Homo sapiens: one gene and its partners. The protein of the gene in region 4 binds, or shares a complex with, the protein of the main gene of each other region. Each region holds a gene or a part of one and is shown on either strand. Other genes may lie near its edges. The genes, in order: PHF12, MORF4L1, HDAC2 and SIN3B. A codon is read from its position in the direction of its gene.

The links.
Region 1: the proteins of SIN3B (region 4) and PHF12 are in contact, whole or in part, in a cryo-EM structure (PDB 8BPA), measured with the Homo sapiens proteins. Residues at the interface, in NP_056075.1 of Homo sapiens: Glu307, Phe311, Leu318, Glu322, Val323, Tyr324, Glu325, Asn326, Leu328, Arg329, Cys330, Ile331, Leu333, Phe334, Asn335, Glu343, Leu347, Pro350, Phe351, Lys354, Phe365, Lys395, Arg396, Glu490, Glu493, Leu494, Val497, Tyr545, Arg546, Ile547; in NP_001028733.1 of Homo sapiens: Leu20 (codon at 2,404), Met21 (codon at 2,401), Gln23 (codon at 1,747), Ile24 (codon at 1,744), Gln25 (codon at 1,741), Leu27 (codon at 1,735), Leu28 (codon at 1,732), Pro30 (codon at 1,726), Pro31 (codon at 1,723), Lys32 (codon at 1,720), Thr33 (codon at 1,717), Asn264, Leu266, Val267, Leu269, Val271, Val273, Phe275, Thr276, Asn278, Arg279, Ser280, Arg282, Cys292, Pro293, Leu294, Pro316, Asn317, His318, Ile319.
Region 2: the proteins of SIN3B (region 4) and MORF4L1 are in contact, whole or in part, in a cryo-EM structure (PDB 8BPA), measured with the Homo sapiens proteins. Residues at the interface, in NP_056075.1 of Homo sapiens: Cys394, Arg396, Arg402, Ala403, Pro405, Lys406, Thr407, Tyr408, Ser462, Phe463, Pro464; in NP_996670.1 of Homo sapiens: Gln217, Gln219, Tyr222, Ser348, Tyr350, Glu351, Val352, Ala353, Pro354, Pro355, Tyr357, His358.
Region 3: the proteins of SIN3B (region 4) and HDAC2 are in contact, whole or in part, in a cryo-EM structure (PDB 8BPB), measured with the Homo sapiens proteins. Residues at the interface, in NP_056075.1 of Homo sapiens: Ile397, Gly398, Ser399, Ser400, Tyr401, Pro411, Lys412, Cys413, Ser414, Gly415, Arg416, Thr417, Ile419, Cys420, Glu422, Val455, Leu456, Asn457, Trp460, Val461, Ser462, Phe463, Pro464, Ser465, Trp466, Ser467, Glu468, Asp469, Phe472, Lys476; in NP_001518.3 of Homo sapiens: Lys9, Asp19 (codon at 6,087), Gly21 (codon at 6,081), Asn22 (codon at 6,078), Tyr23 (codon at 6,075), Tyr24 (codon at 6,072), Gln27 (codon at 6,063), Gly28 (codon at 6,060), Pro30 (codon at 6,054), Lys32 (codon at 6,048), His34 (codon at 6,042), Arg37 (codon at 6,033), Tyr46 (codon at 6,006), Gly47 (codon at 6,003), Arg50 (codon at 5,994), Lys51 (codon at 5,991), Lys59 (codon at 4,828), Thr66 (codon at 4,807), Lys67 (codon at 4,804), Tyr68 (codon at 4,801), His69 (codon at 4,798), Ser70 (codon at 4,795), Asp71 (codon at 4,792), Asp100 (codon at 2,750), Asp105 (codon at 2,735), Gly106 (codon at 2,732), Glu109 (codon at 2,723), His142 (codon at 2,157), Lys144 (codon at 2,151), Lys145 (codon at 2,148).

Annotation. Positions count from the first base shown.
Region 1 is NC_000017.11:28,948,500-28,955,937, forward strand, and holds the start of PHF12 (PHD finger protein 12), read right to left. Parts: upstream 3,020-7,438; 5' UTR 2,462-3,019; coding exon 2,396-2,461; intron 1,748-2,395; coding exon 1,566-1,747; intron 1-1,565. Other genes in the region: SEZ6 (seizure protein 6 homolog), read right to left, coding at 7,107-7,438.
Region 2 is NC_000015.10:78,889,738-78,896,973, reverse strand, and holds part of MORF4L1 (mortality factor 4-like protein 1), read right to left. Parts: intron 5,986-7,236; coding exon 5,960-5,985; intron 5,491-5,959; coding exon 5,402-5,490; intron 4,763-5,401; coding exon 4,661-4,762; intron 3,436-4,660; coding exon 3,347-3,435; intron 2,917-3,346; coding exon 2,744-2,916; intron 2,155-2,743; coding exon 2,070-2,154; intron 1-2,069. UniProt on the Homo sapiens protein: Component of the NuA4 histone acetyltransferase (HAT) complex which is involved in transcriptional activation of select genes principally by acetylation of nucleosomal histones H4 and H2A.
Region 3 is NC_000006.12:113,953,930-113,961,165, forward strand, and holds part of HDAC2 (histone deacetylase 2), read right to left. Parts: intron 6,090-7,236; coding exon 5,977-6,089; intron 4,838-5,976; coding exon 4,720-4,837; intron 2,765-4,719; coding exon 2,690-2,764; intron 2,223-2,689; coding exon 2,084-2,222; intron 1-2,083. UniProt on the Homo sapiens protein: Histone deacetylase that catalyzes the deacetylation of lysine residues on the N-terminal part of the core histones (H2A, H2B, H3 and H4).
Region 4 is NC_000019.10:16,860,327-16,867,562, forward strand, and holds part of SIN3B (paired amphipathic helix protein Sin3b), read left to right. Parts: intron 1-2,025; coding exon 2,026-2,233; intron 2,234-2,325; exon of another isoform or gene 2,326-2,557; coding exon of another isoform or gene 2,558-2,653; exon of another isoform or gene 2,654-3,317; coding exon of another isoform or gene 3,318-3,353; coding exon 3,354-3,470; intron 3,471-5,083; coding exon 5,084-5,322; intron 5,323-6,046; coding exon 6,047-6,230; intron 6,231-7,236.

The DNA of each region.
Region 1 (7,438 bases), on a different chromosome or scaffold from region 4:
AATCATTTTTGTCCCAGCAATTTTACAAGCTGGGATGGGGTGCCCTCCTGGGCAAAAGTATCTTGGGAATGGTAATGGGAGTTTCCTACATAACTTCTGACCATAAACTTAATTTGCTCAGTATCAGTCATCTGTCTAATAAGTGTTCCCAAACCTGCAATTAGTACAAATATACAGTAGACACTACTCCACAAACCGAGAGATGGAACGTGAATGGAACTGTTGAGAGACCTTCGGTGAAATTTCACTTAAAACAAAATAAAAAGAGGGCTAAAAAAGGCAACATCAAACAACTGGTGGGAACACAGAACAGCCCCCTTTTCCTCTCTCCAGTCTGGCTCCTCTCTCAAACCCCTGCCTCAGTCAACTGTTGCAGAACAACAGAACGAGACCCAGTAGAACAAGACGAAATCTGGGTTTGCTGCCGCAGATGTGGGATTTTTGTGGAGGGCAGAGGTGATTTCGGCCGGCAGAAGATGGAGTTTAAACTCTTCTTTGCCGGATTGTCCTGGGCTGAGCCGCTGAGGAGGATCACGCAGCGGGCGATCAACTCAGGTCCCTCCCTCTCGGTTCGGTCTCTCCCCTCCTCTCATGTCCAGTAAGGGGGAAAAAGCGTACGGCTTTCCAGCTCTCAGCTCCTTAAAAATGCCTTTCTAGTGCCACCGCACACAATCCTCCCTCTGGCAGCAAAGAATTTTGCAGCGAAGGGCTCGCCGATCCGGAGCGGAGAAATGAAATCGGCGCCCAAGGGCAATTTTAATTGTCTAACCCGGCCCGATTTCCTAAGAGGCAGCGGCGCCGGGAGGGAGGAGGGAAGAGGGAGGAGGAAGGAAGGCAGCTCTGAGAGGCAACAGGGGGCAAGCGGAGGCAGAGAAAGGGGATCAAAGCGGCGAGATCCCAGACGGGGCCCCCGAGGAGCTTCTGCAGAAAGGACTCTGGGGCTGTCCCCACCGTTCCCCCGAGAGACGTTTGCAAATCATATATGCAGCCAAAATGGCGCTGAGAATAAAAATATAATTTAAAGGCAGGTCGCCATATTGTAAACAGAGAGGCAAAGAAGAGGCGGACTCGAGAGACACCCTCCACGATTTTTTCTACAGCCACAAGCGCCCGGTTGCCGGGGTCTGGACCAGGGCAACTCAGGTGGCCGAGGGCTCCACGCACCCACCCCGAGGAGATCCCGGCCGGGCAGGAGCCCCGAGGGCAGCGGGCGCGCGGGCAGGCAAGCGGCACTGGGCCCGGAGCTCCTCCCCTTCCTCCCCCGCCACTGCCGGCTGTCCCCGGCCGGCTCTGTCCCGGCTCCCCAGCGACTTCCAATCCCATATGGGGTTCTCTTCACTCGTCCCAACCCCCACCTCGGGGTCCGGACCCACCGCTGCTCCTCCCCGCTAAACTGCCAGAACCCGGCGGACACCTGGGGGCGGGGAGGTGCTCGCCCCGGCAGCTGCAGAAAGTCAGCTAGCGGCTGCAAGCGCCCGTTATTTCGGCAGTCAGGGGCAGGCCGGGTGAAGGAATGCGCAGAGAAGGGTCCGCCAAGAAGCTCCAAAAGGGTCCCCAGACCTTACCAGCACTGGAGGTGGAAGGCAGCCGGGCAGTGGTCGCAGCACAGGAGATCTCCACCTTCCTTGCAGCTATCGCAGCTGTCGTGGTTGGTGGCCCTGCCGCTTCTCCGGGGCTCCTTCTCAGGCTTCCGACTGCGCTTTTCTGCCTCGTCCGTCTTGGGGGGAGCCAGCAGAGCTTGGATTTGCTGCACACACATACAAACGGCGTGTGTGCACACTCGGAGCTCCCGGGCGGTCCGTCGCCCCCCCGGCGCGGTTTCTCCGTCACCCACCCCTCTCCCCCCTTTTGTCCTTCTTCCTCCCATCCAGGCTGCTCCCAGAATCTCTCAGCCCCCGGAACCAGGGGGAGCCCACCCTAACCGCGTTCCTGCAGCACAACAACGAGAACAGCTTCTTCCAAATGGGGAGGATCAAGGGTAGGGGGATGGGAAGAGGGTGCGCGGTTCCCTTCTTGCCACTTCCTTGTATGGACAGTGGGGGACTCCAAAGACCCGCTCGGGAGAGGCCCAAAGCCCGGTACCCGGACGTGCTGGGGGAAGCACAAAGGGGCCAACAAGAAGGGGGTGGGGAGGCCTGCCGGTGCAACGAGATGGAGTGGGCTGGCGCCTCGGGAGAGCGAATCGAGGGCGGCGGGTAGGTGAAACTGCTGCAAACGTCCTCGGAGGCTGAGCTCAGCCCCCTAAATTGCAAAGAGGGGAGGGAGAGGCTAGGTGAGGAAGAATCCCCCTCCCTCGGCCATCTAGGCGCTTCGAGTTTAGGACTGGCTTTGTGGGGCGGAGGGCGGAGGTTCCCTCCCGGCGCTGGAGGAAGGAGATGAGGAGGGCCACTCTTACCTCCATCAGCCCCCCTGATGTGTCCAAGTCGTACACGATCGTCTTGGTCTCCATTTTCTCCCACATTCATCCACCTCCCGGGCTGGGTGCTCTCTGCTCCGGCCCCCCCAACCCCGGGGGGAGGGGGGAGGTGAGGGGAGGGGGCGCTCCTGACCCCGGCCCCGCTTTTTTCCCAATACGGGTCCCGACTTCCTCGCCCTGGCTCCCCCCCACCCCCCGGCCCCCAGTCCCCGGGACGACAGCGTCCTCCCGACGGGCCGCGAGGGGGGAGCGGCCCCTCAGTCCCGGCCCGGCTGCTGGCTGCACAGTGGGTCCCGGCTCCGGGGGTCAGGCCTCGGCGGGGCCTAGTCCCACAGGCTAAAGCCGGCACTGGCGACAGCCGGTCCGGCCGGGAAGGCTGGCGGGCGCTGCCATCCCGGGGCTGGGGGTATCGGAGGGGGGGTGAGAGGTTACGTGAGGTTGTGGTACGTGAGGTGACTGGGGGGAGGGTGATGGGGGGTGGTCCCCGGGCTCCGCCTCTCGCCGCCGCCGCCGTCTGCGTCCCGGCTGCCGCGCACTTGGCGCAAACTTACCGCGAGCGCCCGCAAAGCCACCCGCGCAGGCGCCCCGGGATCGGCGCTCGCCGCGCGCAACCGCAGTGACAGCCGGCGGCCTGGCTCCCGCGCAGCCGCGGTGAGGGAGTACCCCCCAGCGCGCAGCCGCGCTGGCATTCGTCTGGAGGACCGAAGCCCCACCTTTCTGCCCTGCGCCAGCGCACTGAGACAAAAGGGCGGGACCTGAGGTCTCGCGCAGGCGCTTGAGAAAGCTTGTAGGGGTCAAGGCGCAGCCGCAGGAAGCTAGGGACTGTTCATCCATTGGTGTTTGTGTGCAAACTAAGACGACTCTGTTCTGCGCAGGCGTGTTGGGGGTGCTCCCCCTTCCTCTCCATAACACAGACGCCTCCCGCGCAGGCGTATTGCCTTCCGCAGGCCCTCACAAGAAAGCTGCTCCTTTCGCCATTTTGGTAATGGGATATGGGCTATCATGCCCTTGGAGTCCTCAGGCATGAACAGAAAGGAGCAAGGTGTGGTGTTGGATGGAGCTGGTCGCCTGTCGGTGACAGCAGTATTCCTAGGGATGTTGTACTTGACCGTTTGGTTCTACCATCGGGTGTGGCTGGACCAGGCCACCATATTGGTAAAGAGAAAAGCCATTTGAGACAGAAAATGACGCTTTTGGAGGCGTGTGGGATGACTGTGGTTCCTAATTCTCTCCCGCTCCTGACAGATAATTTTATCAGTTAATTGTATCCTCAGCATCCCTGCCTTGCGTGGTGGTGGCACTGGAGAGTTCCGCCTGCCCGTTACCACCCTCTCTTCACCACTGTCCCTGAGATCTGCTCTTCAAGAGGAAGCCTAAAGTGGAGAGTTTGTAATCCTGACAACGCCCAGCTACCTGCGTACCCCGGACTCCAACTCCCAGTTTGCAACGCCAAAGGGTCTAAAGGGCGAACGGGGGCGCATTGCATCCTGGGAGCAAGAATCGCGATAGGTCTGATGGATTGTGGGAACTGTAGTTCCATGTGCGTGCGATGCACTCTATGGTAGGATAGACCCGGGGAAGAGTCATTTGCCGGCCAGGAAGGGATACTTTTGAGAGCGTCAGTGCTGCATGCCGGGATTTGTAGTCTGAGGGCCCGCCTCGCATTCTGGGCGGGGATTCATGCTCCTTTTCAGGGCGCCCGCTCCTCCCCTTGGTATTGCCGTCAGAGATGGGCGGTTGGTTATTGCTGCCTGATGGTGGATGAAGCAGTGGAAAAGAGAATTGTATCGTTGTGCTTGACACTAGGGGTTTAGTTGGAATTGTTGCTTCGTAGCTGTGCTCGGCCCACTTTTAATGTTAAGGGACACAGCATTCTCAGAGTCGTCAAACTAGCAAGGGTTTAGAGACCATCTGATTTAATCCCCTCTTTTCCAGATGCACAGGGAGGCGCAGTGATTTGCCTAGGTCACATAGTGCATTTATGGCAGACCTAAGAATTGGATTTCTTGATTCTCAAGCCAGACACTGTCCATTACACTATGTCGACTGTGTCTAAGGAATTACTATGCTTGCTTTGGGGACAGTAAGGAGGATGAGTTAGACAGAGTGGGGATGTCAGTGTATGGAGTCTTAGGTTTCTGTTTTCCTGACTTTTCGCTTTTCTGATGACCCTCTTGGTGCCTGGAAAGAATGATAAGGTCATGGATGGTGGGGTGGAGAATGTCATGTGAATTGGCTGCCCTCTGCTTTCTACCATTCTGAGCCAACAATAAACTTCAGGAGCTGTGGACCAGAGATGTGGCCATCAGAGAGGGGAGGGCTGAGCTAGATTGTTTGTATGAAAGAGGCAAGATTTTCTATCTCCTATGGCTATATTTTATGTCACAGGCTCTCAGAGTTTAGAACCTCATGTGCCCTCTCTCTTTGGCTTTTTTTCCTACTGCTCAGGGCCCAGCTGTGCTGCTGTGTTAACCTGGAGGCATTATGGAACAGGTAAGTAAGCCATTGGCATCCATCCACTGGACAAGGCTTTGCTTTGATCAACACCATCAATTGCAGCTGATAATAGGAACTATGGGCTAATGAGGGAAATAAGACTTGGCTCTGTTGACAAGAGCCAGGGAAACTTCACACCTCTTCCTCTTGGAACTTGCAGGATGAGGTTAGGCCAGTGGGGCCAAGGAATGCTCCCACCTTGGAGAGCTCCCGCCCTGACAGTTGAGGGGGGATTGAGGGGCGAGCAGGTGGGATACAGACGCCTTTGGAAGTGACCTCTTGTGGCTAATCTAGGCACTGCACTCTGCATGGACAAGAGCTTCTCCATCCTTCAAGGTGGCTTGTGCTAGAGCCAGGGGTAGGCAGCATGAGTGGTCAAGACTTCCCTTTTGGAAGACTGTAGAAGCAGAAGGTGCTGGTTGCTGCTATTATTTCTTTCATGGATTTTTCTCTACTGGTTTCTGAGCTCCCATAATTTCCTGTTGCCTGCCTCTTGCTGTCACTCTTGGAGAGCAGCAATGCAGGGCACACCTCTCAGCATGGAATGTGCATACTGGGGGCCAACGCTGGGCACTTTCCATCTTTGTAGGTGCTGGGGCCCATAGGGAAGGGGCAAACTTGAGCACATCCTCCCAGCCACCTTTTTCCAGAGCCCATGGTTAGGGCCTTTGCCTAACTTAGGATCCAAGCCCGTAAGCTGCATTACCACTGCTCCTGACAATCTAAGGGTTTTGTAAGGCCAAGCCAGATTAGGGCTTCATGTTTTGGGGATCAGTCTCTGTTTCCTATTCTAATTTCCCAAGCCTTGCTTACTTAGAAATAAGGGGAAGGAGAGATGCATCAGACTTCCTGAGCCTAGTTAGCATTGAGAAGGGCATCAGTGGCGTTGAGAAGGGATTTGGGAGTGTGCCAGCCTGTAGTTCTGGACCTGGCAAAGAGGAGGAAATAAGGCATTGGGTGGATGTGCAGTGGGGTTCCTGGGCTCCCACATCCCTGTAACATCAGCCATTGGGGCCTCTGATTTTGCCTGCTATCTGTTGCACTGTCCCTTTTGGTACAGGGGACCCTGTTCAACTGCATGCAATAATTTCTTTTAAAATAAAATCTGAGCACTTTGGGTGGCTGAGGTGGGAGGATCACTTGAGCCCAGGAGTTGGAGACCAGCCTGGGCAACATAGTAAGACCCCATCTCTACAATAATTTTTTTTTAAATTAGCCATGTGTGGTGGCCTGCATCTATAGTCTTAACTATTCAGGAGGCTGAGGTGGATCACTTGAGCCTTGGAGGTTGAGGCTGCAGTGAACCGTGATCCAGTCACTGCATTCCACCCTGGTTGACAGAGTGAGACCCTATCTCAAAAACAGTAGTAATAAAATAAAATCTGAAGATGATTGATTGGTGGGTCTAGCATGCCTTCTGGTCCTGAAGTCCATATCCCATTTATCTCCCACCTCCCGTCCCTCCAAGAAAGCATCATTCACCTGGCCATTGCTTTTTTTTTTTTTTTTTTTTTTTTTTCCAAAAACACCATTTTAATAAGGAAACAACAGAAATAAAAGATTGTTCTCTGGCTGGAGCCCAGACCCCATATAATACATTACATGTACAAAGTGGCTTTCAGCCAGCTCCTGGGCGTCTCCCTGGGGCTCTCCTACCACCTGTTCCATGCCAAATTCCTGGGTCCTTGGACCTCTGCTCCTCTCCAGAATATGCCCACCCCCTCCCCTTATCCCATAACACAGTGGTCAAGAGGAGAGCCTGACAAGTGGCTGGAATTGGAGGAGGGACTATTAGGGTGAAGATGTTTGCAACAGCTAAATAAACATCGGAGGAAAGTCTCCCTTTCCTCAGGGTATAGGGTGGTCAGTGGAAAATGGCGTGTCCTGCTTTGGTGTGGAGCATGAGTGCCCAGGGAAGCCCAACCTGAGGTGGGGGTAGGGTCCCCCTGAACCCCTTAGGATCTCCTAGAATTACTGCCTCCACTGGGACAGGGCAGGAGGCAGAACTGTCCAGAACTTTAGAGAACTAGAGACCTCCCAAGAGGCTGATGTTGGCATGCCAGGACTACCCAGAGGTCACCGTTGAGAGGAGTTTTGGCCATTGGTGATGGCGCTGTGAGGAGTACCCTGGTGCAGTTCCCACCATGGTCAAGTTAATCCTGCTGCAGGTTGCCATGCCAGGGCGGGATGGTGGTCATGTGGAGAAAGGTACTCCTGCTCTGCTAGTGTGTTCCAGGCTGGTCCAGGGCATGAGGAGGCTCAGGATGCTGGCTGTTGATGCTTGTGCTCCAGCTATGTTCTTCCCACAGGTAGATGCCCCCTGACATGGGCCCAATGAAGGGCCCCAAGTGGGCAATGACACCAAGAAAATAGGCCATGGTGGGCATCGCAGGCGGGGAAGGGCACAACTTCTTGAGGGCTTGGTGGCATCTCCTCCTAGGTGGTATATACAGGAGGTGGAGGGACAGCAGGAAGCAAGGAGCCTTGCTGCTGGACTGTGGTGCAAGTCTGAGTTGACTTCCCTAG
Region 2 (7,236 bases), on a different chromosome or scaffold from region 4:
AAATATTCATTACAAAAATTTTTAAAGGTCATTATCTTGATCCAAATCTCTTCCTATATATTATATACATAAGCCACAGAAAACACTTTCCTAAAATACATTAAACCAGACATTCTCTCACAGTAAAACCACACATAATGACAATTCAGGTAAATAAATAAGGTTATACAATGAACAACACTATACATATACAAAGGAATGAACTCTGGAGTTACTCCCCTATTTCTAAACAGCAAAGAACAGTTATGTCTGCAGAATACCAACTTGGGAGCTTGAACCATCTTTAAGAAACAGTTATTATCCTATTACATGACAGCATTACCCTAAAAGAACATCTAGACATTTTCTAAAAAAAAAATCGTTATCAGCCGGGAGTGGTGGCTCATGCCTGTAATCCCAGCACTTTGGGAGGCCAAGGCAAGCTGATCACCTGAGGTTGGGGTTCAAGACCAGCCTGACCAAAGTGGAGAAACCCGTCTCTACTAAAGACACAAAATTAGCTGGACATGGTAGCGCATGCCTGTAATCCCAGATACTCGGGAGGCTGAGGCAGGAGAATTGCTTGAACCTGGAGGCAGAGGTTGTGGTGAGCTGAGATCACGCCACTGTACTCCAGCATGGACAAGCGTGAAACTCCATCTCAAAAAAAAAAAAAAAAAAAAAAAGAAAAGAAAAGAAAAAAGAAAAAAATCCTATCAGGCCAAGCACAGTTGCTTACACCTGTAATCACAGCACTTTGGGGGGCCGAGGCACAAAAATTTGAGGCCAGGAGTTCAAGATCAGCCTGGCCAACATGGCAAAACCCCATCTCTACTAAAAATACAAACATCAGTCAGGCATGGTGGTGTGCACCTGTAATCCCAGCTACTTGGGAGGCTGAGGCCCAAGAATCGTTTGAACCCAAGAGGCGGAGGTTGTAGTGAGCTGTGATCGCATCACTGCACTCCAGCCTGGGCGACAGAGCAAGACTCCATCTCTAAATGAATAAACTTTTTTTTTTTAATTACATAAAAGGGAACGTGAAATGTCAAGTAGTAGAGCACATTCCATAAAGAAACTGAGGTCCAAAGAAGGTATTTATCATTAGTAAAGAAAAGATGATAAATCTTGCCTACATTCTCAAGTCCACGTTGCAGTTTTAAATTTACTGTAAAACGATTGTAATGAGAAAATTCATATACAGAAGTATACAAAGTAGAAACTGAAAACTCCCACCCTCCCTTCCAACACCACGCCCAAGAAATAACCCAGTATTAACTAAGATCCACATTGGAAAGCCAGATCTTATGCAAAGATTAAAATAATGTTTCTCTACAAGTAACAATTACACCATACTCCTCTACTACAGCTTGGCTGTTTTTCAATTGAAAACATGGACATCTTTATCAGTATGTTTAGAGTGACCTCACCCTTTTAATAAGTGCTTGTTTCAAATTCTTCACTATTATAAAAATGCCCTCCAAAAACTTGTAGAAACCAGGATTGCCCTTTTCTCCATTTCTTCAAACATTTAAACCTTAGCCAATCTGACAAGTGCTACTTTACTGACAGTTTATACTTTCATCATTATTTCTGACATATTTTTAATGGTCCTTTGTGCTGCCATTGATGTAAATTTCCTGTCCTACTTTTCACTGGTTTGTTCATTTCTTACCGAAGAACTCTGTGTGTATTAAAGGTACCAACCATTTATCATAAATGGAACACTATAGAACTATGAAAATATTACATTTCTCCTTTCATTATCTTAACAATTTAATTTTAAACTTCAGATTCATCTAGAATTTTGGTACATGACAAGTGTGGCTTTGTTTTCTTCCAAACTGTCAGCTGTCTTATCACCAATCTACCAGACTCCACTGCTTTCCCCTACTGCACCAATATATCATCTATATACCATCTATCATTTCTGAGACTCCCATGTGTTTGCACTTACTTTTACTGCTCCATTACCAACTATCTATGCCTGTACCAATATAATGTTTAATGTTTTAGCATCTATACTGCCAATCCCTCCCATTACACGCTAATTTTCAAATCCATGTTTATAATTTCAAGCACAGACTTACTTTAGGAAATCGTGAAGATAATTGAGTAATAAAGCAAGGCTCTTCTCATCCAGAGGTGTATAAGCCAACATTGCTCCAATTCGTACTGTTTAAACAAGAGAATTTATCCAAAGTTACATCCAAGGCAGGGGCACTACAACCATGTATTTTAATTATGTGAGCAAACACCACCAATTCCTTTAAAATACATGATTTTAGGCCGGGCATAGTGGCTCACGCCTGTAATCCCAGCACTTTGGGAGGCCGAGATAGGCGATCGCTTGAGGTCAGGTATTCAAGACCACCCTGGCGAACGTGGTGAAACCCCATCTCTACAGAAAATACAAAAATTACCACAGATGTGGTGGTGCACACCTGTGATCCCAGCTACTTGGGAGGCTGAGGCAGGAGAATTGTTGAACCCAGGAGGCGGAGGTTGCAGTGAGCAAAGATCGCACCACTGCACTCCAGCCTGGGCAACAGAGACTGTCTGTCTCAAAAAAAAAAAATTATAAAATAAAATACACGATTTTTAAAACTCTTGCTCCTAAAGAGATTTTGCTATTTAACATTCTAGATAAAAGTTCAAATTAAAATGGGAGTCATGTTTTGGAAAGTTAATTACTTTACCTCTTATTCATTTAGAGAAGACCCCCCAAAAAGTAAAATCCATTATTTTCTACATGACATATTACCAAATAATCTCAGGAGATGTGGCGCTCCATACACCTGGGACATGGGTGCATCGGGATGATCTGCAAGAATTTCAGCATACTGTGGTCTCTCAAATTTATAGAGTAGCTGGGTACCCAACATTACGTTGAAGTATTCTTTTATCCCTGCCACAACTTCATTAACCGCATACTCCCTGATAAATGAACAAAAATATTCCAAAACTGGTCAATAAAAATAACTGACATAGAGAATAATTCAACCAATTTAAAGAATTAAAAGCTGAGCTAGTAATAATGAACCATAGCTGAGATTTTTTTAAAGGGCATATGAAAGCAGGGTTTGACAAACTAAAGCAATTAAGATGATTCTTACATTTTCAGATGGTTAAATTTTAAATGGTTATGCAAATACCTACATGATAGCTTAAATTTTACCTAAAATATTTACTATCTGGCCCTTTAAGAAAAAGTCAGCCAGCCAACTCCTGTGTCAAAGCAGTGAAATTCTATTTTGCTAGTTTCTGGTGGTATTAATGTTTCGGAGTCAGTACAAGTTTCAGATGACTTATTTAGAAACTTTTTTAAATGTCTTTTGAGTGTCATCTGAAAAATGTATATTCTTACTTATTATCTGTGTTTCCACGAGATTTCTTGTAATTTGCATAATCCTCAAGAATGGAATCCACATTCTTCTTGGCAGGAAGATAAAAGAGCTATGAAGACAAAAATATGCTTAAATATAAGCACTCTCTTTTTTAAAGAAAAATCATACCAGGCAAGTTTTTATACAAAGATCAGGTAACAGTAACAGTATTTCAAATTAGGAAAGATACTATTCAGCACTTAAAACATGGATAATGTGGCTGAGAAACTACAGACAGTTCCCAACTTACAATGGTTTGGACTTAATTTTCCAACTCTCTGCTGGGTTTATTGCGATGTAACCCCATTCTAAGTTATGGAGCATCTATATATTTAAACAGCCAAATGAGACTCTACTAGACAGAACAGCACAGCTTTTAAAAATGTCAATCTGTCACACACACATAACAGACACGAATGTGCCTTTGTGGTACTACCAAGTCATCATTTACTGTTATGCATACTATTTGCTAGATCTAGTCTAAAGCATTAAAATAATTATCTTTTCGTCCTCTCATCAGCATTGTCAAATACAAACTATTATTCCATTAAATGCAAAAACAGAAGCACAAAAAGGCTAAGAAACTTGTCCAAACTCACAAATAATAAGTGATACAGCCATGCTTGAATCTTCGCAGTTTAGCTGTAACTGCATAACCCTCCAAAGGATTCAAATCAGAATTCAAACTATATCCACATACTGTATATGACTGATAGGTCTCTTAAGTCTCATAATCCTCAAGCAGTCCCTAATCATCTCCCCCAACTATCCCTAACCCTACCTATGCCATTTGTTCAAATAGCTTCATTTGTCCTATAAAATTCTCAATTATAGAGTTCAACGATTGACAAACATGTCACTCCATTAAACATCCTATTTCCTGCAAACTAACAATAGATCCAGGCGCTTAGTAAGATTCAGGTTCTTTTCAGGGTCATGAATACCTTGCAGGTGGTGGTGTGTGCTTTCTATGGCCTACCATTAGCAATGACAGTAAGACATATGCTTCTTCACCTTTATGAATTTTCAGAACGAGTTCCTGCCCTAGCAATCTCCAAAAATGAGTTATTTCCACCTTTATCATTATAACCTCATAAAATTTATATGTGAACTTTTATTCTTCTAACTTACTCTTTCTGGTAGTAGTTCTAAAGTGTTCAGCCTCTAAATTAAAATATTATTTTATCAGTCATACCTTAATAATTCAAGTCAATATAACATTTTCCTTTAAAAACTTTTTTTGCTAGCAAGAATGTATCATATAGCTTAACAATCTGGGTAGCTTTTCAAGTTACCTGTTTTTGCCTGGTAATTAAGTCCCAGTCATCAACAAGCCACGGTTTTAGCTCTTCAGGAATCTTTACTTTAACTTCAACTCTGTTCATGAATGTTTCCTCCTAAACAGAAACAGGAGGAGTATTAAAAACCTAACCTTTCTTGCTAAATACCAAACATGGAGGGGAGCTGACTTTTAGAGGCACTAGGGATAAATCTTAAAGTAGCCAAGCATACAGCTGTACTGTCATTTTTTAAAATCATTAATAAAAACGACCATACGCGGTTCGCTGTTGGGAGAAAAGAATCTGACCTGAACTATAGTCTATTTAGTGCATTTTCTTGTAAAGGTAAAAATTCTTCAGTAAGGTTCCTCTTGTTCAGGAAATGAAACACCCTGACTTGATACATTTTAACTTAGTATTTTCTTATTTACCATGGATATCAAAACTATTCCAAACACAACCATCTTAAAGGTACATCTTTAACTCCTAAAAATAAATACGTAACACCAAAGAAATAGTCTTGTAGGTGAACATGAAGCTTACACAACAAATGATCAATTGGGTAGGTAAATCTGGAGCTACAGGTGAAATAAAGATATACAGAAATTTATCCTTTACCCCCAAAAGAGAAAATTTTTAATTTCAGGTATTAACCATGTAAGCAAATCTTGTAGATAATCAAAGCTCCCATGGTTATGTCATGTAACTGAGACTAAAAATCCTAACATGCTATTCATAAACACAAGAAAAACTCACATTTTCAACAGTAGGATCTACCCGGGCCCTTTTCTTCCGAGGAGGCTGAGGGGTCTCACTGGTACTGCCACCATCTCCATTTCCAGGTGCTGTAAATGTTGGCGGGGAGGGGTCTCATTTAGCTAATTTAACAAACTCTATAAGGAAAATAGTCTCTTGACACATTAACCCTTTTCATTATTTCTCCATTACACAGCTGTTACCTCAATCTAAGTTAAAGAATCATATTCCTACCAAAAATACAACTTTCATGAAGAGCTCTACCGAACATTTAGTATAGACAACATTTAGTATCACCATCTTCCATTTATTTATAAATGTTATCTTCTCAGTGGGAGACATTAAGACTAAAGCAGATGAAAATAAATGCTCACAAGTTTCTCCTTGGCAAAAAGAGGTCTCTACCACCATGTACCTATTTTATAACACTGCTGTGAGACTCCTATTTGAGATAATCAATAAACATAAGCTTACTCCAAAATTTCATAGCTTTCAAAATAAAAACGTCAATGTCATAGAGGTAACATAAATTAACGTTAAGAAAGTTAATATTCTTACTTTTCTGTTTGTTCTTTTTCGTTTTCCTAAAAGGAGAGAAAAAAAAGAAAAATAATTATTTCCAGTAAAACTGCCTCTGTTTCAACTCCCTTTATCAGGGTTAAGTTCACAGAGAAATACTAACTTGGATAAAGGATCAGGTGGTAAATATGTGTCCTACTCAGACACAAGGATTTTTATTGATAGTTGGTTAAATTCCCATCTCTCTCCACATAATAGAAAAAAATAAACCAAGCCAGGCGCAGTGGCACATGCCTGTAATCCCAGCATTTTGGGAGGTGAAGAGGGGGTGGATCTCTAGAGCTCAAAATTCCAGACCAGCCTGGGCAACATGGCAAATCCTGTTCTCTATAAAAAATACAAAAATTAACTGGGCATACTGGCAAACGCCTATAGTCCCAGCTACTTGGGAAGCTGAGGTGAGAGGATTGCTTGAGCCCAGGAGGCCAAGGCTGCAGTGAGCCTTGATTGCACCACTGCACTCCAGTCTTGGTGACAGAGACCCTGTCTCAAAGACAAAAAAAAAAGAAAAGCAAACCAAGAACACTTTAGTAAACAACTTCGTTCTTCCAGGGTTATATTAATATATGTTATAGTATATACTACATTATTAGGCCCACCAAAAAAAAAAGGTGTCAAAGGTTAAAATTTTTTTCCAATTATTTTTGTTCCCCAAAATATTTTTAGATTTGTGTAATTTTTTTGTTTTAAGTCTCCTCATCTTGATTATCATCTCTAACAGCAACTTACCTCACGTCACTTATATACTGTCAAATGGTAAATTGCTAATTTTGCTTTATTTATTTATTTTGAGATGGAGTCTTGCTCTGTCTGTTGGGTGATCTCGGCTCACTGCAACCTCCTCCTCCCGGGTTCAAGCGATTCTCCTGCCTCAGCCTTCCAAGTAGCTGGGACCATAGGCACCCACCACCACTCCCAGCTCATTTTTGTATTTTAAGAGACGGGATTTCACCATGTTGGCCAGGCTGGTCTCAAACTCCTGACCTCAAGTGATTCGCATACCTCGGCCTTCCAAAATGCTATTACAGGCGTGTGCCACCATGCCTGGCCTAATTTTGCTTTTTTACATTATTATTTCTAGACCACAAAGGAAACAGTTTATAGAGCCCATGATTATGGATTACTTTCGATGGAAAGATACTATAACACCTGGATTTTTTACTTTTCTGTAGCTTTAAATAATACTTATAAATGTTATTAATTAAATATATTCATTTAATTTAGGTCTTAAGGTTTGACAATTCAAATTAACTTAT
Region 3 (7,236 bases), on a different chromosome or scaffold from region 4:
TTCAGTGTCCATAAAAAAAGTTTTACTGAAAGACAGCCATGCTCAATTGTTTATTACCTATGGCTTCATTTGAACTGCAGAATCGATTAGCTGTGACAGAGGCTACATGTGGTACTCTCATGACTTCAAACTGGTGCTTGGAGCACCACAGATTAGTGACACAGTTGTAACTCAAACGCAGTTTAGGAGTCACATGAATCACCATGTCATGACATTTTGTTACCAGTGTATACTCATGTCAAAATAAGGGGAAAATGGACTTCTCATGTCATCCTTTTGAAGTATAGTGAAGTGAGATATTATTAGATGGCAAAGCATTGTATTTATTATATAATGGTGCCATAACTGTGCTAAATAAAACAATACAATGTAAATTGATATTTCCAGACTAAGCACTCATAAGAATATTCTCATAACACTATAAACAGCATACCATAGTACAGCAAAATTTCTTCACAAAATTAAAAAAACAGAAATGAGGCTGTGATCAAAATAAAGTTTCTGAGCGGCTCACGTGTTAGATAAGCAAGGAAAGCTGTGCACCAAGTCAATTAATTAAATCATGTTTGATTACACCACCCAAAAAAATGTGTCCAGACAAATTAAAGTTGTTTAAAACTATTAGCTGAGTGGGCAAGAACTTGCTCAAAGAGTTGAAGACACTGGAACCAACATCAACAGTCAATTAAAAAACAAGGCAAATGATTGCAAATGATTTTCCTTTGCTCCTGATGAGCAGGCAAGATGTTACACTGATACTGCTCAATCACTGTTTATTTGAGGAGTCAGTATCAATTTTAAGTTGACTGAAAAGTCAGCCTCTATGGATAGCATGCATGGAATAACTACAAGCAAAAAACACTAGCTCAGTATAATACAAAGTAGAATCTGCTAAGATGTGTCATAACTGATGGCAAAAAATAACTAACATTGCGAACATCCAAATTCCTAAGTACCTCTATAGATCTCTCTCTCAAACTGCAGCCACAGATAAGGAAAAATAACTCCTTCAACAACTCAGAGATAATTTTATATCCATCAGTAGAGAACAAAGCCTCATTCAGATATGGAAGTTAGGCAGTTAGACTAACTCAATAGGTAAAAAAATTTCCTTTAACACTGGCTTCAAATTTTTGTCTTCAGTTTAAAACATCCAAAATACTAGAATATAAACTTCCAAGGTCATTGTCATTTTTTACTAGTTGAAACTAACTAAAATGAAAATTGCCAAACTACTTTTAAAAAAGGGTATTTAATGGGAGTTTTGACATTTATATACACTTCTAATTCTTTTTTTTTTTTGAGATGGAGTCTCACTCTGTAGCCCAGGCTGGACTGCAGTGGTGCCATCTCGGCTCACTGCAACCTCCACCTCCCAGGTTCAAGCAATTCTCCCACCTCAGCCTCCTGAGTAGCTGGGATTACAGGCGCACGCCACCACGCCCGGCTAATTTTTCTATTTTTAGTAGGATGGGGTTTCACCATGTTGGTCAGGCTGGTCTCAAACCCCTGACCTCATAATCCACCCACCTCGTCCTCCCAAAGTGCTGGGATTACAGGCATGAGCCACGGCACTGGCCTTTTATACACTTCTAATTCTTTTTTTAAGGCAGGGTCTCACACTGTTGCCCAGGCTAGAGTGTAGTGGCAGGAACATGGCTTCCTGCAGACTCAACTTCCTGGGCTCAGGTACTCCCACCTCAGCCTCCTGGGTAGTTGGGACTACAGATGCATGCCACCACATCTGGCTAATTTTTTTTCTGTAGAGATGGGGTTTTGCCATGTTGCCTAGCCTGGTCTCAAACTCCTGGGCTCAAGAGATCCGCCCACCTCAGCCTCCCAAAGTGGAGGGATTACAGGCCTGGGCCATAGTGCCTGGCCACACTTCTAAGTCTTAATAATTGAAGAATTGGGCAAATTTCCTGCATTTCTTCATTGTTTTGTAATGAATTCATAGAAAATTCACCATTAACTATTTCAACCTATGGTTTACCTAATATTTTTTAAAGCCATAGACTTTATTTATTGTGTTTTAATGAAAACACTTTATCACTGAAAAGAGTATCAATATAAATTAACATACTTTAGTAATTCAAGGATGGCAAGCACAATATCATTAACGTAACAGAATCCTGATGCTTCTGATTTCTTAGCATGATGTAATCCTCCAGCCCAATTAACAGCCATATCAGTCTGTTGTCGGTTTAACTTCACAGCTCCAGCTAAGAAGTAGAAACAAGATAGACCTTTTAAACATTTATCATAAAAAAGTAGTAGAATGAGACAAAAACACTACAAGTGTATGCCATGCATAAGCAAGAGCTTAAAATCATGAAAGTTAACAGAAATCATCTATAACACAAATAGGAGTTACTCCTTAGAAAAATATTCTCCTAGAGCTGCAACCTGAGATTAAATAATGGTTTATGTGGAAAGTGGTAGTAACAATGATACCTAGAAGACAAAGGGAATGAATGAAGTCTCCAAGTGAAAATAAGTTTAAAAAGCGTTTAAGTCATAATCATAAAACATAGAGGTTTGAAAGTAAATTGTACTTTACTATAAACATACTGATTTCCTTTTGTTATCAAAATTCACAATCATTAAAACTTCTGTTTTACACAAATAACCCGAAAGATAACACACCAAGTTCAGATCAACTTTTAAATCTGATTGCATTAGCACTTACCAACTGAACCGCCAGTTGAGAGCTGACAAAACTCAAAGAGTCCATCAAACACTGGACAATCTTCTCCAACATTAACTGTGGAAGATGGATTTCATTAATTTCAACACATTCTGCAAATTAATGAAAGCCTTTTCTTACAAAAACTATTTCCCACAAATACTTTTTTGCTTGATGCAATCATCAAACATACACTTCACAGTATAATATAAAGTTTCCAACTTTAAAATATATTTATTGTTTTATCCAAGGTAATTAAAGTGTTATCTGTGAAAGATCATCAAATCTTATCAGGATTATCTGTGGAATATTTCTGTCTATTAACAAGAACTCAATAGTTGTCTAAGTACAACAATTCTTATTTAATTAAAACACAGGCTTAAATTTTCTAGGCCTTTCCCCTTAATATTACAATAAGTTAACATTCTAAAAGCAACTTCAATTGCTTTATAATTTACTTTCTTTGAAACTCCTTAAATACCTATAATATCTGTAACTTTGAAATGCATGTCAGTAAGTTACTAAACCAAAAAGATGTAACAGCTGGTTGCCTATTCCCATGGCTAATCTTGATCTTGAAAGTTGCTAAGAATTAACTAGGTTCATGGGAGCCAAAACATAGGATACTAAAGACAACAAGGAAAACATTTACAGATAAACGATCACACATTTAGTTCCTTAGCACTGAGAGAATGAAAGGATATGGCAGATGTATGTAACCCTTTCTTAGTCTTTCCCTATGCCCTTGAATTGTAACCTCTTCAAGAATAAGGGTCCTTGTTTTGTATATTAATATCTTTGTATACCCTTAAGTCACAAGCACTATAAGAAATGAATTTTAGTTTCTTACTGCACAGAGAGATCATAATCTTTTTTTTTTTTTGGAGACAGAGTCTCACTCTGTCGCCCAGGCTGGAGTGCAATGGCGTGAGCTTGGCTCACTGCAACCTCCACCTCTGGGGCTCAAGCAAGCAATTCTCCTGTCTCAGCCTACAGAGTAGTGGGATTACAGGCGCGCACCACCACACCCAGCTAATTTTCTGTACTTTTTTAATAGAGACAGGGTTTTGCCATGTTGGCCAGGCTGGTTTCGAACTCCTGACCTCAGGTAATCCACTCACCTCCGCCTCCCAAAGTGCTGGGATTACAGGCGTGAGCCACCACACCTGGCCAGGATCATAAGCTTAATAGAACTCATTATTATGTGGGTTTTAAATCAATCCTGTTATGTTGTTTGCCCAAGGGCTACTCATGCCTCTTTTGCATCTAAGTTGGAATCTTCATTGAAAAAAAAAAAATTAAATACTACATGTTCTAGTTACATTGTAGCATTATAACAAATCAAACAAGATATGGCAGAAATGTGTATGAGGTTGTAAATATGAGATGTCTAGCACCTACACTAATTTAGTATAATCATCACTGAAGTCAGTCAATACAAACACTAATGAGAATGAACTTTGGTATCAAGCTTTAAAAGATACTGTTCCAATAATTTTAGGTTGACTTTTGCATTCTACCTTCAAGCCAATTTGTTACTAATCTCTAAAAATAAAATACTTTTAACCTGTACAAGAGAACATTACGTAGAATCAAAAGCTTCACTAATATCTTAACAAAGAAAAAGAGATGTGTATTATAGTCCAGGTTAACTGAAGTACACAAAGACAAGACAAGAGATATGTACATGCCAAGCTAAGGCTAATCAAAGTGTAATCTTGTTTTTGTTTTTTTGAAGCGAGGGAGTAAGGGAGTGAGGTCTCCCTACCAATATGTATTAACCCAAAGTTATCAGGGGAGCAAACTAGGAGTAGAAGAATACCCAAACAGCAGTTTTGCAAACCAATAAGCTTCAGATAGGTTTACTTTTTTCTTAAGTAGCTTTAGTAGTGTTAAAATGACTTTTCAAATCAGTAAATAACTGTAACATATTAGACCAACAGGAAAAATATTCAGATTTAGATCATTCTAAGCTCCTAAAAATACTAATTTACATTTATCAAAGCAAAACTACTTTTTACTTAGAAACGTACATCTCTGCATCTGCTTACTATACTCAGACATGTTATCTGGTCTTATTGACCGTAGAAATTTGATATACTCATCACTGTGATATTTTGTCATTTCTTCGGCAGTGGCTTTATGGGGCCTCTGTGAAGAGAAATAAATGTCAGAACTGTGGAATTACAACCGGTTATATCAGTATTATCAAACAAATATACAAATTCCCCTATCGGTCCCCTCAAAAGAACCAAGTCTACCAGAACAAAATATATAAATTCCAAAACTAACCCAAACTTATATGTGTTTTAGAAAACAGTAATCAATCTCAAAACTAATTCAAACTCCTTTAAAAGCATTACACAGGCATATCAACTATGATTTAATCACTCCTTATTTTAGTGGAAACAGTTCGAGTAAAAAGTCAAATCCATATGTTCATAAACTCTACTTTCTCTCCTTTTCCATGATAAAACATCCAGTGATTTCATCAATGAAATCACTCACTACAAGAGTTTTCAATTCTAAATCTTTGTTCACGACCTCTCGTCCTTTTTTCTATCCTAATCTTCCTTGTTCCGAAGAGCTCAATTTCACGTATGACACAATTCTTCCACAAGACTTCCAGACTGAGTCTTATTCTAACTTCCCCTCTTCTCTAAATGTCTACATGTAACTGAAAATAATTCACATATTCACATATATTGCCTAGCATTAATTGTTTTAAATATTTCTTTTCTCCCCAAATAGCTAATTGTCGTGTCTGTATTTGTTTATACATACCCTCATCTTTATCTACAAAAACATTAAGGCAGCTGTTGCACTTGTGTTATCTGTACTATGCTTGGCCACACTAACACAGTATTCCATATGTATTATATGCCCTGCAAATATTTGTGGGATTAATTTTATGTGTTATTATTTTGTAACAGTCCCAGGTCAACTCTTTTCAGCAGCACAGGCAGATTAACAATTATTGTAAAAAAAAAAAAAAAAAAAAAAATACTTAATATGCTACACTGAGTTGTTGCTATACTGAGTTGTTCTCCAGAACCATGAAAGCCTAGGGTAGGGGGAACTTTTTTAAATGGTTAAAGGAAAAGGAAAAAGAGGGTATAGCTCTCATTCTTATTCATCTCCTAAGAATAAACGAAAAAAGAAGTTTGTTTTCTTCCAGATCTTTTCATCTGCTAAATGCCCTCAAAAGGGGAATAATAGACAAAGTTTCACAGTAGCTAAAAAAAAATAAAAAAGATCAGTGCTGAATATGTATTAAAAGGAATACTCACATATATTTCCATTTTTCTGTATAAGCCATAATTTAACAGCAAGTTATGGGTCATGCGGATTCTATGAGGCTTCATGGGATGACCCTGTCCATAATAATAATTTCCAATATCACCTAAAATAGAAAAGACACAAACTAAACAATACAGACAAGAGACCCTCCATGAACTATTTGAATTTATGTATGTCTATCATTAGAAGGCATTTACTACTTAACAAAATTTATTTAAAACCTTAGCAACTTAGATTTATTTTGCAACTTTCAAACTGTATCAGATGACTAAGACGCTACGCACACTTTTACCAGCTGAAGACTCCATTATTACACATTATATTTATTTGTAGATTAAGGAAAGCAAGCTTTTCTGATTTTTAGCTACCCCCAATTTTTAAAATTTCTGTTCCTTGAAATGATGCCTGCTTTCTGTATTCTCTGGCAAATTCACATGCTTTTAAGTTCTCTGAGTTTTATTGGTATGATTTAAAATTTTTTCAGCAAATACTGCTTTTTGGATGATTTGCTGGCATTTCAGAAATCTCATAATTGGCGTTTTGCATGTTAAAACATACCGTGTCCATATTAAAGCCCATCAGGGAAGTTTTGGTAACTGAAATTTAGGTCCTAAATGAGGTTTTGCTCCACTAAGACACAGCATTACATTTTTCAAGGTAATAAAAATACTGTCTCATTCTTCATGACTAAAAAGTTGTAATTCCTAGCCTGTCTTTTTAAACGGCATCTTATATCACAATGTCTTTAAACTTATGCATAAGATTTAAAAAAGAGAAAATAACAAAATCACAGATTTTCATCAACTAAATTTCAATAAAATTAATACTTTTAGGTAAAGCTCCAGTGTTTCCTATAATAGTAAATAACAAGAAGCCTCTCAAATATATAAAGTCAACCCTCTGTATCTGTGGATTCAATCAACTGCAGACTGAAAATATTTTTAAAAAATAGATGGTGGTGTCTGCTGGAAACACGTAGAGACTTTTTTTCCTTGTAATCTTCCCCTAAATCATACAGTGTAACAACTATTTACACTGCATTTGCATTGTATTAGGTATTATGAGTAATCTAGAGATGACTTAAAGTGTAAGGGGAGATATACATAGGTTATATGCAAATACTATACCAGTTTATTGAAGGAACTTAAACACCCATGAATTTTGCTATCTGTGGAAGTCTTGGAACTAATTCCCCACAGGGTCAGGACAGTCAAGCTATTTTAATGGTTTGAAGTCTATCATTTCAACAC
Region 4 (7,236 bases):
GATCGGGTTGAGCATTCCCTTCAGAGCAGTCACGATTTGCGTTTATCCCAGCAGTAGCCTCAGGCATCTCTGCAGCTTTTTTGTTGGTCTCTTTCCTTCCTACGTTTCCATCGGCTTGTGGGTTTTCCTTGTGAGCAGGGTTGGCATAGGGTTCTTAAATACGGGGAACGACGGAGCCCACATCAATGAGGGGGACGTCGTTATGCGAGGGTGGGCTGGGTGGCTAGGTCACAGCAGGATTGTGGCACCAGCAGTCAAAGTAACTGCAACTTTTTTTTTTTTTTTTTTTTTTGAGACGGAGTCTCGCTCTGTCGCCCAGGCTGGAGTGCAGTGGCGTGATCTCGGCTCACTGCAACCTCTGCCTCCTGGGTTCACGCCATTCTCCTGCCTCAGCCTCTCCCAGTAGCTGGGACTACAGGCGCCCGCCACCACGCCCAGCTAATTTTTTTTTTGTATTTTTAGTAGAGACGGGGTTTCACCGTGGTCTCGATCTCCTGACCTCGTGATCCGCCCGCCTCGGCCTCCCAAAGTTCTGGGATTACAAGCATGAGCCACTGCGCCTGGCCATAACTGCAACTTTTTTGGTAGGATCTGATGTTACTGCTTAGAGACGGGGTCCTGCTCTGTTGCCCAGGCTGGTCTCAAACTCTTGAGCTGAAGTGATCTTCCCGCCTTGGCCTCCTGAGTAGCTGGGATTCCAGGTACACACCACCAGGTCTGATACTATTTTAAACAGAAATCCAGGTGGCATTGTAGGGTCATTTGCATTAAAGCCTTCCTGTTGTCGACCACAGCCATGACATTATGACTTTCAAGCTTGTGTCCAGAGAGGGGTTCACAGAGAGAAGTCTCCCTCATGAGAGGAAGACTGTGGATCAGAGATAGGCAAACTTGATCTCTGAGGGGCCAGATGGGCTTTGTGGAAATGACTCAAACCCCTCTTGTGCAGGCAGCCACAGGCAGTGCGTACACAAGTGGATGTGACTGCAGGCCAGTGAAACTTTATTTACAATGGGATGGCTAGGCATGGTGGCTCACGCCTGTCACCCCAGTACTTTGGGAGGTTGAGGTGAAAGGATCACTTGAGGCCAGGAGTTCAAGACCAGCTTGGGCAACATAGCAAGACCCCATCTCTACAAAAAAATTTTTAAATTGGCCCTGCATGGTGGCTCACACTTGTAATCCCAGCACTTTGGGAGGCCGAGGCGGGTGAATCACCGGAGGTCAGGAGTTTGAGACCAGCCTGGCCAACATGGGGAAACCCCGTCTCTACTAAACATACAAAAATTAGCCGGGCATGGTGGTGCATGCCTGTAGTCCCAGCTACTCAGAAAGCTGAGACAGGAGAATTGCTTGAACCCGGGAGGTGGAGGTTGAAGTGAGCCGAGATTGTGCCATTGCACCCCAGCCTGGGCGACAAGAGTGAAACTCTGTCTCAAAAAAAAAAAAAAAAAAAAATTTAGCCGGGTGTGGTGGCACATGCCTGTGGTCCCAGCTACTGAGGAGGCTGCGGTGGGAGGATCTCTTGAGCCCACGAGTTTGAGGTTGCAGTAAGCTGAGATCATGCCACTGCCCTTGAGCCTGGGCAACAGAGTAAGACACTATCTCTAAAAAGAAAATACCAAACCAAACAAAACACAGGCAGTGTGCAGACTGGCTGTGGCTTGCCACTCCCTGGCCTGAAGCCTGGCCTCTTCCAGTCAGGGAACATCAGGGGTTCCAGCTTCTGCCAGTTTAAGTCATCTTTTCTGGTGTATTTCAAAGCCTTACTGTGAGTATGGGATTAATAGGCACAGGAAGGGACCTGGTGTGTGACAGATGGGTGGGAGGCCCATTCATTCACACACCCCGGGACTTGCAGTGACTTCCTGTGTATTGGATTCTTCCGCCTCTCATTCGCATCCATGATGTTGAATTCTGACTCTGTTTAACTTGTAATGTCCACATGAAGCCATTCTAAAATCTCCAGATCCCTCTCAGAAGGCCCTGGGGATGACCAGTTACCATGTGTCTTTATCTTTGAAGGAAATTTCCAGAACTCTTTGCACAGTTCAAGTCCTTCCTGGGGGTAAAAGAGCTGTCCTTCGCGCCACCCATGAGCGACAGATCCGGGGACGGGATAAGCCGGGAAATTGATTATGCATCCTGCAAGCGCATAGGATCCAGCTACCGGGCACTCCCCAAAACCTACCAGCAGCCCAAGTGCAGTGGGAGGACAGCCATCTGCAAGGAGGTAGCGCTCCCTGGGGCTCAAATGTTCGTTGACATGGTGCATCCCCCACCCCTCCCCAGCAAACACCCGATACCCCCGTTATGAATGAAATGCTGTGTGCTCAGCCCTCCTGAATGTTGGGTTATGGGTGGTGCTGGGATGTGGCCCGGCAAAACCACCTGAGCAGAGACAACAGTGTTGTACCCTGCTGGTAGTTTTGGCAAAACACAGAGTGCCAGGGATAACGTGGAGTTCGGCTTATTCATCTGTTATTTGACTTAGGTTTATTGCTGCCATGATTCTGCTCTGTCCCGGGCTCACTGACCTCAGTGTGTTTCTGTTTAGCTTGACCATTGGACACTTCTCCAGGGTTCGTGGACAGACGATTACTGCATGTCCAAGTTCAAGAATACCTGCTGGATTCCAGGATATAGTGCAGGGGTCAGCAAACTCTGGCCCACGGGCCCTGGCCCGCTGCCCGTGTTTGTAAATAAAGTTTTACTGTCACACAGACACAACCATTCCTTTACATATTGCCTGTGGCTGCTTTTCTCACCACAAAGGCAGAGTTGAGTATTCATCTGGGATGGCCTGCAAAATCTGAGATGGTTGCTGTCTGACCCTTTGCAGAGAGAATTTACCAATGTCTGAAATGAAATCGGCCCTCCGGATCTGCAAGTTCCTCATCTGTGGTTTCAACTAACCATGGATTGAAAATACGTGGGGAAAGAGAAACCAAAAAATGACAATACAGCAATAAAGCGTAATCCACATTTTAAGAATGCAGTGTAACAATGATCTACACAGCATTTACATTGCATTAGGTATAAGTATTCTAGAGATGATTTTGCATAGGATATATGCAAATAGGATTCCATTGGACATCAGGGACTTGAGTATCTGTGGATTTGGGTCTTCAGGGGTGGTTCTGGAACCAATCTCCCAGGATACCAAGGGAGTGTCCACTTGACCAAAGTCATGTTTTTCCTTAAAAACTTTATGCACCTTCCCATTTGTATAAGGCAGTTGGTATTATGTATCAGGATGGTATTATGTATCTTGGTACTTTCTACACTGGCTAACAGTAAATCTTGGCTCCTGGGGCATGCAGCGTCATTCACGGCATTTCCTCTTGGTGCAGGTACTGAACGACACCTGGGTCTCCTTCCCTTCCTGGTCTGAGGACTCCACGTTCGTCAGCTCCAAGAAGACACCGTACGAGGAGCAGCTTCACCGCTGTGAGGACGAGCGCTTCGAGGTGTGTGTGCTGCTGTGGCCGGGTCCCCCGGCATGTGCCTGTTCCCCTTCTCCATGGGACATGCATCCTGATCCTCCTCCACTGCCCCAGTCTCGTTTGGAGGAGCAGGAATTGCAGCACATTCCAACAGCTCCTGGAAGCTTCCTGCCGGGTCTTGCTGGCCTTTGGGCTGGCTACCAGATGGCACTTTTCTTTCTGTTTAAAAATTTTGTTTGGGCTGGGCGTAGTGGCAGACACCTGTAATCCCAACACTTTGGGAGGCCAAGACAGGTGGATCATTTAAGCTCAGGAGTTTGAGACCAGCCTGGGCAACATGGCGAAACCCCATCTCTACCAAAAATACAAAAATTAGCCGGGCGTGGTGGCGGGCGCCTGTAATCCCAGCTACTCGAGAGGCAGAAGCAGTAGAATTGCTTGAGCCAGAGAGGCCGAGGCTGCAGTGAGCCGAGATCACACCACTGCACTCCACCCTGGACAACAGAATGAGACCCTGTCTCCTAAAAAGTTTCTTTAATGTAAAAATTAAATTTATTTTTATTTTATTTATTTATTTATTTTGCTTGCTCTGTTTCCCAGGCTGGAAGTGCAGTGGCGTAATCATGGATCGCTGCAGCCTTGACCTCCCAGGCTCAAATGATCCTCCCACCTCAGCCTCCTGAGTAACTGGAACCACAAGTCCATACTACCATGCCCAAGTTGTTTTTTTTACTTTTTTTGTAGACATGAAGTCTCACTGTGTTCCCGAGGCTGGTCTCACACTCCTGGCCTCAAGCGATCCTCCCACCTTGGCCTTCCAAAGTGCTGAGATTAAAGGAATGAGCCACCACACCTGGCTAATTTTTTTTTCCTTTTTTTAGAGACAGGGTCTGTATTGCCCAGGCTACATTAATTTTTGTAATTAAAAGTTTTATTGGCTGGGCACGATGGCTCACGCCTGTAATCCCTGCACTTTGGGAGGCTGAGGTGGGAGGACTGCTTGAGGCCAGGAGTTCAAGACCAACCTGGGCAACAAAGCAAGAGCCCATCTATACAAAAAAAAAATTTTTTTTTTTTTTTGAGACAGAGTTTCACTCTGTCGCCCAGGCTGGAGTCCAGTGGCATGATCTTGGCTCACTGCAACCTCCACCTCCTGGGTTCAAGCGATTCTCCTGCCTTAGCCTCCTGAATAGCTGGGATTACAGGCACACCACCATTCCTGGCTAATTTTTTTATTTTTAGTAGAGACGGGGTTTCACTATGTTGGTCGGGCTGGTCTCGAACTCGTGACCTTGTGATCCGCCCATCTCAGCCTCCCAAAGTGCCAGGATTACAGGCGTGAGCCACCGTGCCCGGCCATAAATTTTTTTAATTAGCCAGGCATGGTGGTGCACACCTATATTCCTAGCTACGTGGGAGGCTAAGGTGGGAGGATTGTTTGAGCCCAGGAGGTTGAGGCTGCAGTGAGCTTTGATTGTGCCACAGCACTCAAGTCTGGGTGACAGAGCAAGACCCTATCTCTTAAATACACACACCCCCCCCCCAAAAAAATCCTCTGGTCTCTGAGGTCCCAGGCTCCTCTCTGAGGCCTCTTGAGTTCCCCAGTGGCTGACCCCGTCCTGCCTTCCTTTCCATAGTTAGACGTTGTCCTGGAGACGAACCTGGCCACAATCCGTGTGTTGGAAAGTGTGCAGAAGAAGCTGTCTCGGATGGCGCCGGAAGACCAGGAGAAGTTCCGGCTGGACGACTCCCTGGGAGGCACGTCGGAGGTGATCCAGCGCCGTGCCATTTATCGCATCTATGGCGACAAGGCCCCGGAGATCATCGAGAGCCTCAAGAAGAACCCTGTCACCGCTGTCCCCGTTGTCCTGAAAAGGTGCCCTGTGGCGTCCCGACTTCCCTTCCCCTTCCCCTTCCCCCTTCCCTCCCCTCCCCTCCCCTCCCCTCCCCACTGCAGGGAGCCCTTGGAGAGCTCATTAGTGCTGTTTGTCAACAGGTGTCATCTCCAGGGGTGGTCTCTGAGGCCTAAGGGTGCCTTCCTGTATTTCCCAGTCTCCCACTCCTGAGAGGAGAGCACTGTGACCTTCTAGGACTTTCCACCTTGCACATAATACATCTAGACATCTAAATAACTGCTTTAAGAGTCAGATGCGACCACTACACTGTGGCTTGCATTTTATTTAATGCTGCATTTCGGATGCCGTCCGGCGCTAGTTAACAGGCATTTATCAAGTGGTCACTTTCAGGCAGGTGCAGTGCTTGGCCCTGGGATTATGCAGCTGAGTGAGGCAGACCCAGTCCCTCTCTTGGGACTCACAGCTGAGCAGGGGACCTGAGTGGTTGAGCCAACAGCCATGCGGAGAGTGCTGGGTGCCAGGGAGGAGGTGGAGGAACCGGGAAGCCGGCCACATTGGCTCTGTAAGGCCATCACGCCCTCCCTCTGACGTGCACAGAGCCCACTGCACAGACTAGGCTGGGAGCTGGCTGGGCCTGGGTCCTGGACCCCCAGTCAAGTCCCAGAGGAAGACAGGCCAGCCCTGGGATGCTTCAGGGAGGATGCCCTGGCTTGTCCCTGGTGCTGACCTCTCTTCCCCCCGCAGACTGAAGGCCAAGGAAGAGGAGTGGCGGGAGGCCCAGCAGGGCTTCAACAAGATCTGGCGGGAGCAGTATGAGAAGGCGTACCTCAAGTCCCTTGACCACCAGGCTGTGAACTTCAAGCAGAACGACACCAAGGCCCTGCGCTCCAAGAGCTTGCTCAACGAGATCGAGAGCGTCTACGACGAGGTAAAGCCTTCCCTAGCCCTGCCGGCCGGTGGGGGTGGGGTCCTGGCTCTCCCGACCGCCGGGTCTGTGCCTCTGTTTCCCTGGTGGTTAGGCAGGGTAGTGGCATTGCCCTTTCAGGGCTGTGTTGAGGCGAGGGTTCATGTCTCTGTGATGCCCAGCCTGTGGCCTGCCCTAGGAGAACCAGCAACTCTGCCATTGTCTATCTGTTTGTTTGTTTGGAGACAGAGTCTCGCTGTGTTACACAGGCTGGAGTGCAGTGGTGTGATCTCAGCTCACTGTAACCTCAGCCTCCTGGGTTCAAGTGATTCTTCTGCCTCAGCCTCCTGAGTGGCTGGGACTACAGGCGCACACCACCACACCCAGCTAATTTTTATATTTTTAGTAGAGATGGGTTTTCACCATGTTGGCCAGGCTGGTCTTGAACTCCTGACCTCGTGATCCACCCACCTCAGCCTCCCAAAGTGCTGGGATTACATGCGTAAGCCACCGCTCCTGGCCGACTCTGCCATTGTCTAGCGAAGTCTCCGTCCCTCCCGTGGGGCAGTGATGGACTTTGGCTTAGGTAGTGGGTGGCAGCAGCCTTCATTTCTTTCTTGCCGACTGTGCCAGGCACCGGTGTTAGCAACACAGAAAGAGTAATGCATCATCTGACCTCACTCCTGAACCTGACTCTGCTGCGGCATTATTCTGATTTTACCAGTGGGGAAACTGAGGCACAAGAGGTTGCATTTGCCTGGGCTGGTCGCAGGGGGCCAGGGCTCTGAGTCATTGGGTTCGAGGCTTTCGGCTGCATGTCCTCACTGCAGGCTCACAAGGCCTGAGTCATAGAACCAAGGCCAGCGGGGCCCTCAGGTTGCCAGGAGCTGGGCCTGTTAGTAGCTGTGTGTAGGGAGTGCCTGCTTGCAGGATCCTGAGGTGGGAAGCTTGGCAGGGTGCCGGGCGTGGTGATAGCCAGCTGTCGGGAAGGTCCTTGGACACTCTGAGGAGGTGGCTTAGGAGGGCACAC